Regions from separate parts of the Homo sapiens genome. Here region 2 is linked to region 1. A link means that fine-mapping ties the variant in region 1 to the expression of a gene that starts in the linked region. Tissue or cell type: whole blood. Region 1 holds a variant in brackets; the other region holds the start of a gene. All regions are shown on one strand. Distances are from middle to middle.

Region 1 (5,147 bases):
GTCAAAACCTATAGAACTATGTACAACATAAAGAATGAACCCCAATGTAAACTACGGACTTTAGTTAATAATGATGTATTAATACTGGCTCATCAATTGCAACAAATGTACCACTCTAATACAAGATGTTAATAATAGGGGAAATTGTGTGGAGGAGGGAGAGGGAATGTGGGAACTCTGTAATATCTGGTCAATTTTTCTGTAAACCTAAAACTGTTCTAAAAAATTAAGTCTATTGGCCAGGCACAGTGGCTCACACCTGTAATCCCAGCACTTTGGGAGGCCATGGCAGGAGAATCACTTGAGGCCAGGAGTTTGAGCCCAGCCTGGGCAACATAATGAGACTCTGTCTCTACAAAAACATTTTTAAAAATTAAGTCTATAATTTGAAAAAAGATTCACTGCAGTATATAAGGCTCTAGTATCACTTCTTTAAGGAAATCTTTCCTGCTCTCCCATCATATTCCCAAGATGGGTTAGGTGCTCTTCTCCCAAGCTCCCATAATACCCTGCACATATATTTATTTCTATGGTTGCACCTACCACATTGTATTTTAACATTTATCTGTATCGCTGTCAGTTCATAGCTGTGGTTTGCTGACGCTTGGCCTAGAATGCAGAGATGGTGAAATAAGCTAATCCATTGAACCCTTTAACAGGCACCTAGGAATGCCTGACAAAGGGCACTTCTGTTCCCTCAATGCACTGTTGATGTCATTTGTGGTATAATCATTATTAGCCCTCTGGTCCATTAGGCTATTTTCTGGATGACGGCATAAGGCACAGTCTTGTGACATTAAAAGTTACTTAGCCTGAGTAGTCTCTAGATTACTGGTCTAGGGTCTGCCAAAGACGATCCTCATGGGGAAGTTTTTGCACTAACCTCTCCAGGATTCAAATCCAATGGTTTTGACCCAAAACCATGCTGTTTACGTTACACAACACGTTCTCAATCTTGTTCAACTTAAAAGGTGGCACAGTACAGGGGTCACTGGCACACATGCCTACATGACAGATAACATAAGTGACAAAAGCAGACTCAGGTCGAGAAGGGTCCCTGGCATTTGGGAAAGTCCATGCCCAGTCTAGAACAGGCAGCCACTCCTTGGCTTCAGCCAATTGTTGCCACACAGAAATGTGGACACAGTGTTACCAGACAAGGCAGAGAGGCAGATTTCTGTTCACACAGAAACTTTTCAGTTTAAAAAAGTGTTGGCAACTAAGTCAAACTGCTTAGAAATACTGGAGATGGCATATTGGGAGGGTAAGGAATCATCCAATTGAATTGGGGTATTTACGATGGGGGAGAAATAGCAGCTAAAGGATAAGGGCAGCTTTTGGAGAACCCTGATTGTCACACTCAAGGAACTTATATATTGTCATCTAGGTCTGAGTGCACACTAAATAATTTAAGCAAGAACAGGACACGATTAGAATGGTATTTTTAAAAGATCACTTGGCAGTTGACGGGCGAGGCTGAGACCAAATGGTGAATTAGAAGTCTGTCATTTAGCTAAGTAAGGGTAAAGGCAAGACGGCAAAGGCCTATTTACTTGGCTTTTTCTCCTACCCGACTGCAAACTCCAAGACAGCAGGGCCCCACCTGCCTTGTTCATTGCTGTGTCTCCAGCACTAAGCAAAAAGCCTGTTCAACATTTGTTGAAAGAATAAATGAACAGGAGAGAGGGAAGGCGAGAGGCATTTTGAAGGACTGAGTTTAAAAATCAACTACCTTGAAGCCGGTCGAGGTGGTTCATGTCTGTAATCCCAGCACTTTGGGAGGCTGAGGCGGGTGGATCACCTGAGGTCAGGAGTTTGAGACCAGCCCGGCCAATATGGCGAAGCCCCGTGTCTACTAAAAATACAAAAACTAGCCGAGAGTGGTGGCATGCACCTGTTATCCCAGCTACTCAGGAGGCTGAGGCAGGAGAATTGCTTGAACCTGGGAGGCAGAGATTGCAGTGAGCCAAGATTGTGACACTGCCTGGGCGACAGAAAGAGACTCTGTCTCAAAAACAGAAAACAAAACAAAACAAAACAAAACAAAATCAACTACCTTCAGAGGAGTAGAATGTTGGTAATTGTGAGAGCAGTCATGGAGGGGAGGGGAGCCATGGAGGCCTGTTTCCTTCCCTGAACTTCCTCAACGAGGGGGCATCTTAAAGAAGAAATCATGTACACAGATTTTTGTGGGTTTTTTTTGGAGACAGGGTCTCACTCTGTCTCCCAGGTTGGAGTGCAGTGGCATGACCATAGCTCACTGCAGCCTACAACTCCCGGCCTCAAGCAATCCTCTCACCTCAGCTTCCCAAAGTGCTGAGATTACAGGCGCGAACCACTGCGCTCGACCCTACACAGGTTTTTTAAAAAGACGTTTGTGCATTGGATTCCTGGCACTTCACGTGGCCTCTTCAGTCTACCAAAGAAGGAAAAGGTAAGTACCCTGAAGGATTGAAAGGATTAAATGAACATTGAGGGATGAGCAATTTCTGTTCTTCCCTGGCTCCAGCATTACCAAAGCACACAGTAAGAGGACTGACATCGGCCTCCGACCCAGTGAGGATTACTTTCGGGGTGGAGGGGGAACTGCTAAACCTCGAATCTCCGGGACTGGCCCTGGCGCGTTTCCAGTCCCAGCAGAAAGGGCAATCCCCATCCAGACCACACTCCT[A/G]GTCCTCCTTATTCCCACACAGCCCGTATCTTGACCACCCCCAGCTCCGCCCTCTCTCCTCCCACCTCCTTTTCCCGCTCCCCCGCCCCATTTCCTTCTTCTCCGCCCACCTCCTCCTGGGTCCCTCCCCCGGCCATCCGCCCTGCCCCGGCCCCTGCAACCCTGCCTTTCGCTCTTCTTCCTCCTCCCTTCCGTCTGCGCCCCTCCCGTGGGGCCGTGGCAACCCCGTGCCTCGCTTGCCCAATGAGAACACGGTTTGGGGCGGGGCGCGGCCAGGACCGGAGCGGAAGTGGCGATCGGAGCGGAAGTGGAGCTACCGCCACCGCCGCCGCCGATTCCGGAGCCGGGGTAGTCGCCGCCGCCGCCGCCGCTGCAGCCACTGCAGGCACCGCTGCCGCCGCCTGAGTAGTGGGCTTAGGAAGGAAGAGGTCATCTCGCTCGGAGCTTCGCTCGGAAGGGTCTTTGTTCCCTGCAGCCCTCCCACGGTGAGTGCGGCGCGGGGTCCGACCGGGGCCCCCGGGGGCCCAAACTCGAAGCCCCTCTCTGGCTGCTGCGACGACGGCGGCCCAGTGGGTGGGCCCCGTGGGGTAGCGGCGCGCTGCCTCTTTCGCTCCGCGCGGCCGCCGGCGGCGAGGCCAGACCTCGCAGCGGCCCCTCCCTGTTTCCGGGGCCGGGCCCTTTACCTCTTGGAGAGGCTCGGGCCGCCTGAGGTCCTGCCGGCCGGGCGGGGTGCAACTCCGTACTGTGCCGTAAGGGACAGCGGAGCCGGGGATCCCGGACCCTCCCTCACTATCTGCTTCGGGCCCCACGCGACCCCTCCCTGCGTCTTGGTCGGCAAGAACGTCCCCTTCAGCCCTGTCACCTCTGCTCCGTGCTTTCTGGTTTCCAGAAATTAAAATTTAATCAAACGCGGATGAGTTTTCTAGCCCCAGTCCCCGTGTTTGGCTCCTCCTGGATGAGTAAGGGGTTTAACCTTGGGAGACAGCAGTGGGGGAACCCCCTCCCATTTTGCAGTAAAACCATTTCATCATCCTTCACTGGTTATGGAGCCTGGCAGGACCCAAGATTCCCTAGGAAGGGAATTGGGTTTGAATCAAGAAAATCTGTTTGTTGGAGCCGGTTACTGAGTCAGGCCGGATCCCCAGGAAAAAATATCAGGGGGTGAGAATCGGAGTATTTTCTCACAGTATTTACCGTCATTTAATGCCAGATTCTTTTGTGTCTTTACCCCAAATTCCCCCATATTGTGTGTTAGCACGTTTTTCGGTCTGAAATTTGCCCGGTGGCTTCCTGGTCGGGGGGTGGGGAGCGGAGGGAAGAAGAGGTGGGAAGGTGAGTGCATCTTTGCCGCAAATGGAGAACTCCCATATAATGGGGTTTTCAGAGGTGGCAGCCTTGGTAAGCAATTTGCCAACCTTTCTGTAAAATACATGTTTCTTGTCGTTGCCTTCATTGCATTTCTCTTTGGTAAGGCTAGATAGCATCAGGTCCTGATTTTGCTTGCCCTGTGTGGGAGATGGAATTTGGCAAGATGATGCTATGAACATAAAATCAGCCTCGGGAACCAAAAGAGAAAGGTGAAGCACTTATAAGAATATGAAAATTGTCTGCATTTCTCATTCTGTCAGTTCATGTGAAGCCAGACACAGATGCAGTTTGTAGACCTGGACACTGCAGCTTTTGCATTTTCATTTGGAAATGTGTATAAGTATTTGTTCTTGGTGAATTTCTTCTTGACTGCTTCCAGTGTACCCTATTTCTTACTTAGGGATATCTCATTTGTTTGAGCCCTCATTTTTCTTGGATCCCTGTCCTTGGCAACACACGGTGTGTGAGTGTAAAACCTGTCAATCTTATTGGACCTAAGTTAGAAATTTAAGTGTGGCTTTCAAAATGGAAGGCTAATAATCCTGTAGCAACTGCAGAATTATTTTCCTGGCCTGTCCTTCCAATGAGATAAGAAACCATTCACCTATCTTGCAGATGAAGTCTTTATGAGAAATGAGGTGATTTGGCCTAGACTATACACCTAGTTTTTTTCAAACTGAATATCCTCATTCATCAGTAGCAAATATTTATGGATTGCCAGCCCCTGGAGTATGACGCCTACCCTGTAATCTTTTGTACATTTCACATCTTGCAGTGCTTGTTATATTGAAGCCATTTTAGAATTGGAGCGCTATAGATCAGGGAGGCAGCCTCTATAAAACCAGGCTGAGCAAATTCCCATGATGCTGGTTCTCTAGGCAGAGTCTCCAGAGATTTGGGCCGCTACAAAAAGTGCATTTTGCCCATTCGGCTGTGGATAGAGAAGCAGGAAGAGCACTGGACTTGGAGTCAGGTAAATTTGGTTGAAATCTTGCCTGCAATATTTTCTAGCTTTCTGAATCTTCAGCATGTTAATCTCTGGTTCTTGGTTTTCTTATTTCCAGGGTTATCATTAAGCCTTTTTTATAAACTGTAAATTGTTAAATAT
Region 2 (5,147 bases), 25 kb after region 1:
GCTCTTCAGTCATACCGGAATCTGAATCAAAAAAGTATTTTTAAATATCCATGATTTCTCCCTGTATTGAGGCTAGCCCTGATCATGCTTTTTGTGCCTGTCACCAGGTCTCCCAAGTGCACTCATCCAGGTCAGTGCTCAGATGTGTTTAAGGAGACCCTATATTCAGGGAAGTTGCGTGAACACTGCAGTGGGGAGAATTGAGAATAGTCAGGCCTATCAGTCTCACAGAATCACCCCTCTACCTTTGATATTCCACTTAGCTGTAGAGTCCATCTGTTTGTCCATCTGCTGAAATGAGAAAAGAAAAATTTATGCACTGATTTAAAACAAACCAAAAAAAAAGAAAAAAACAAAAAAAAAAATCCCTCCTTTCTAGCTGAACAAAAATGTGCAGTTAATACTTGGCGCTTGAAAATGCAGTAGTGAATGTGGAACCAAGCCTGTCTGTATATCTGGTAGCTCTTTTCTTGCTTTGTTTTTTCTTACCAGTATTCTGCCTAACGTTTGCTTCTGTGATGGTTATATTGCCTAGCAAGCACACCCGTGGTTGTGAAAATAGTATAGCAAAAAAGAAAAATCCCCGGTTATTGATGTACTAGATTTGTGTATGTCTTTTAAACAGTTCTAGTTTCACCTTACACAGAATAATCAGGAAAAGTGTAAAAATTCAAAAGTGAAATAAAAATTTTATCAGTTAGTTGCCTGTGAATTGATGTGTCACCACCATCTCTGTTGTTACCAGACCTAGCTAACTATTCTGATCACACTTATTTTTAACTCTGTTTTCTTTAAAAATAGGCAAACAGTTTTATTTCATTATTTAGGACCAGAAGTCAAGGTGTTATCCAGGGGAAGAAATTACCATTAATTAAACAGCCTCTTTACACCCGTTACTTGATACCTCTCTACCTTCCACAACAAACCATGCAGGTATTAGGTCCTCTTTAGTGACTTCTAAGATTTGGTATGGACAGTTATTTTGCATTGTATTCGAGCCCACCATCCCTTCCCCATTTTTTAACTCTGAGATACAACCAAGCCAGTGAAATAGGTAACCTATGGTTGCATAAGTCTTGGTCATCACCAAGCTGGCGTCTCACCTGTCCTCACACTGTATGGTGGCCTGCAGAGCTGGTTCCTCACAGGATTTGCCCCTTCTGAAAACATCCACATTACCACAAGGAGAGAAAAATATCAGGATAGAGGGGTCTTTTTTAGCCCAAGATTAGAATTAGTGCTTCCTTGCTACTCTGAGGCTGGACAGCCAGATGGGCACCTTCTGTCCCTAGTTTAGGAGCTGTTCCACCTGTTGAAGCCACACTCAACCAAAAGTCAGTGGGGGCCTACCTGCTCTGTTGGATCAGTGAGACCAGGAAAGTCCTATCAGAGGAAAAGTGAAGTATTGGTGCTCAGTGGAGTAGTTGTTTTGTTTTTGTGTTGTTTTTAATGTCCCTATACCACAGATTGACGCTGCAAGCTCAGATTCACAGTCTTGCTCTGTTTAGGTCTTGCTCTGCTATTAGTTCCCAATTGTCCGCATTTAGGCTGAGCCACAAGTAACTCAGTGAACCTCCCTGGTGTAATGGATGTGTAATGGCTTAGCAGAGGGACAGGGAATATCCCAGGAAAAGGGGTCTTGGTAATATGAGCCAGTACCAAGAAAGGCCTTAGTGGTCTCCAGTTCTCATGTCTCAAAGCCATTTCCATCCTTGGTGCGAAACGGTGGGACTGGATCAGGCTCTCTGGAGGAAGACATCTTCAATGGAGCAGGGTAAAATTCTCTACACAAGCTTTGAAACAGTGGCCTGTTCGGAATTCCGTTTGTGTGTGAAACGCAAAAAGCGCGGTTTGGGTCTCCTTTCATTCTTGTCAGGAGGGAATCATTCCCATTTTACAGAGAAGGGAAACGGGTTCAGAAAGATGATCATCTGTTCCGGGGTTAGAACTCAGTCCCCTGCGTCCTTTCCGTCCCAGTCCTCGGCTCTTTCAAAAGAGCTGGGGGTTTTGAGAGCTCCACTCAAGTCCCAGCAGCCCTGCTCAAGGCCAGGTTGAAGGCTTTTTCCGCCTCCCAGGGCGGGGTCAGAGGTGTCCCCACCTGTAGCTTTTAGATCCCCAAGTGCTCGCAGGTGGGGGGTGGGCCCAGGAGGGATCCCGGGGGAGGGGCGTCCGAGCGCGCCCACGATTGGTGCGCAGGGACGCGGGGGCGGTAAAGGGAAGGGGCGGGCCCGCGCCCAGGAAGGAGGGCTTCCGCCCGGGTGAGCGCGGGGCTGCTGGGTGACCCGGCTCCTGCTTGCCCCGCAGCCCCGGCCCCCTGCCCACCATGAACGCCAGCGGTTCTGGCTACCCGCTTGCCTCGCTTTACGTGGGCGATCTGCACCCCGACGTGACCGAGGCCATGCTCTATGAGAAGTTCTCTCCCGCCGGCCCCATCCTGTCCATCCGCGTGTGCCGCGATGTAGCCACCCGGCGCTCGCTGGGCTACGCCTACATCAACTTCCAGCAGCCCGCGGACGGTGAGCCCCGGGGATGGGGCGGGAGGGGAAGGACCGACGGACAAGCAGGCGGACAGACAGAAGCCGGAACTGGGCCGCTTGCGCTTTCATCTTACACTTTGCAGCCGGGGAAACTGAGGCTCAAAGATAACAGGGCGTTGGCAGAGGCCTGGCCCCTGAGACGGGAATTGGTAATTAGTGTGGTTTACTGCTATTCCTCTACAGAGGAGAGAGATTAGGGTCGAGTGAAAACAGATACAGGCTTTGTGGGGGTGGGGGTGGGGGTCAGGCGGACCAGGGATAGAAGCCCAGCAGCCGTGTGACTCTGGGCAAGTTACTCGACCATTCTGAGCTTCAGATGCGTGTCTGGAAAATGGGGGTCCTAGCTGCCTTATAGAGTGCTTGTGAGGATGAGAGATTCAAAGCACCTGGTGAGGAAGATGCCCAAGGCAACACAGCTGGTGAGCAGGGGAGGCAGGAGAACCCAGCCTTGGGCTCAGGCCTTTCCCAGCGCGACGTGAGATCCACACTGGGCGCCTCTACCTGCACGGGCTCTGAAAAACCGCTGCCTCCAGGCCGCAAGGCCGCTTTCTCAGAGCTGATAGCATTGATTAGAGCTTGTCCGATGAGTTTGCCTGCACTTCTGTTGAGAGTGGAGAGGATGAGTGAGCTTGGGCAAGCCTTCACGCTCTGCACCTTTTCATCTGCAAAATGGGGCTAAGGCGTATTCTCCAATAACATAAAGAATGGAGAACTGCTGTCTATGCATAAAGAATGGTAACTGCTTGTTACCTCGTAAACGCTCTTAAGTGGTAACCTAAAATAAATAAATAAATAAATAAATAAATAAATAAATAAATAAATAAGGCCAGGCGCAGTGGCTCACGCCTGTAATCCCAGCATCTTAGGAGGCCGAGGTGGGCAGATCACTTGAGGTCAGGAGTTCGAGACCAGCCTGGCCAACATAGCGAAACCCTTTCTCTACTAAAAATACAAAAAATAGCTGGGCATGATGGCGGACGCCTGTAATCCCAACTGCTGGGGAGGCTGAGGCACGAGAATCGCTTGAATCCGGGAGGCAGAGGTTGCAGTGAGCCGAGACTGCGCCATTGCACTCCAGCCCGGGCAACAGAGCGAGACTCCATCTCAACACAAAACAAAACAACAAACAAAAAAGAAACAACAACGAAAATAGTGGCTTTAACATTCTGATGTAAGACTCCAGAAACTCACCCAAAAAATGGCCGGCGTCCACTAGAGGGATCCCTTGCGCCAGGTCGCCTGGGTGAACCTGGTGGTTGCCTGAGTGGGTGGTTTGCTAGGGAAGGGGTTGTTCCGCCGGGCCTGTTCCCCGCCCCTTACTGGGCTGGATTCCTGGGCACTTTTCTGTTTGTTCTGCTTTGCTCCACCTCCTGCCTCTTCCCATCTTCCTCCAAGCCCTGTGAATGAAGTGGGACTCGGCCTGGAAACCGTGCTGCAGAGAGAAGGGTTTTGCCCCAGGTATTTATGATAAGACTAGGTGGAGAATCCGGGCTTCCTGAAACTTGCTCCACTGTGTTCCCCACAGCCCCCTTCCATGTCTCTGCACTAGCAGACTCCCTGAAACAGGTCACGTGTATCACCCAGGAGAGACACAGGCTGCAGCAGTGGCCGGAGGCTGGGCATCGGCTGCTGTTTTGAGACATTATTTTGTGTCAGGCACAAAGTTACAAACAAGGCACTTTTACATACCTTCTTTATTTTTCAGTCCCTCCAACAACCTGGTAGTTGGTAGTATCTCCCTTTGTTAGGTGTGGAAAAGTAGGTAATATTACCATCATTCCCCCTTTACAGGTGAGGAACAGGCTCAGAGAGGTAATGTCCACTTTCCCCAGAGCCGGACTGCTTGAGATCTAACCTCAGCTCTGCCCTGCAGCACCTCTGAGTTTTAATTTCCTCAAAGTGCTGCCACCCCTTGTCATATGGACATTGTTATCCACTCAGTGTACTTTAGAATCCAGAATAGACCTGACGCTGCCACAGACCTTTCATGTTTCTTATTCTCAGTTTTCCCATCTGTAAAATGAGGGGCAGGAATCCATGCTCATGTGGCTGCAGGGAGTTGGTTGAATGAGATCATAACTGGAAGGTTGGGGGAGCACCATACACACTAATTCTCAGCTTATCCTTCCTGAGCCTTTGGGCTCTTATCTCAGTTATTTGGGCTCTTATCTTGGCTTATTGTCTGGGACCCAGACAATGACTTTCTCTTTATTGGCTCCCAGTTAAGCACCTCGAGGGGTGGGTGATCAAGGTAAGAAAATTCCCTAAACTTGCTAATTTCTCTCCTCTTCCTTCTGTCCAGCGGAGCGGGCACTGGACACAATGAACTTTGAGATGCTCAAAGGCCAGCCTATTCGCATCATGTGGTCCCAGCGAGACCCAGGACTTCGCAAGTCAGGTGTGGGCAACATCTTCATCAAGAACCTGGAGGACTCCATTGACAACAAGGCTTTATATGATACCTTCTCCACCTTTGGGAACATCCTCTCTTGCAAGGTAGAGGATGAAGGGTGTACGTCTTTGGGTAGATCGGTGTCAACTACCTGCCTGGTAGAGGGGTGACAAGCAACACCTCACTTTACAGTTTACAAGGTCCTTTCAGTCAAGTTT

What was found. PIP is the estimated chance that this variant, and not a neighbour inherited with it, causes the effect.
Region 2: PABPC1L starts here. The variant in region 1 is fine-mapped to the expression of PABPC1L in whole blood (TOPMed, PIP above 0.99).

Annotation. Positions count from the first base shown.
Region 1 is chr20:44,882,731-44,887,877 of GRCh38, forward strand. YWHAB (tyrosine 3-monooxygenase/tryptophan 5-monooxygenase activation protein beta) reads left to right here and starts at 2,975. Exons shown (of 6, transcript NM_139323.4): 1 at 2,975-3,156. RefSeq lists silencers at 2,599-2,658, 2,719-3,268 and an enhancer at 2,705-3,321. The variant A/G (reference allele first, on the strand shown) is at 2,672.
Region 2 is chr20:44,907,821-44,912,967 of GRCh38, forward strand. It overlaps PABPC1L (poly(A) binding protein cytoplasmic 1 like), which reads left to right and starts at 2,240. Exons shown (of 15, transcript NM_001372179.1): 1 at 2,240-2,516; 2 at 4,840-5,033. The coding sequence starts at 2,324. YWHAB (tyrosine 3-monooxygenase/tryptophan 5-monooxygenase activation protein beta) reads left to right here. Exons shown (of 6, transcript NM_139323.4): 6 at 1-712. RefSeq lists a silencer at 2,094-2,423.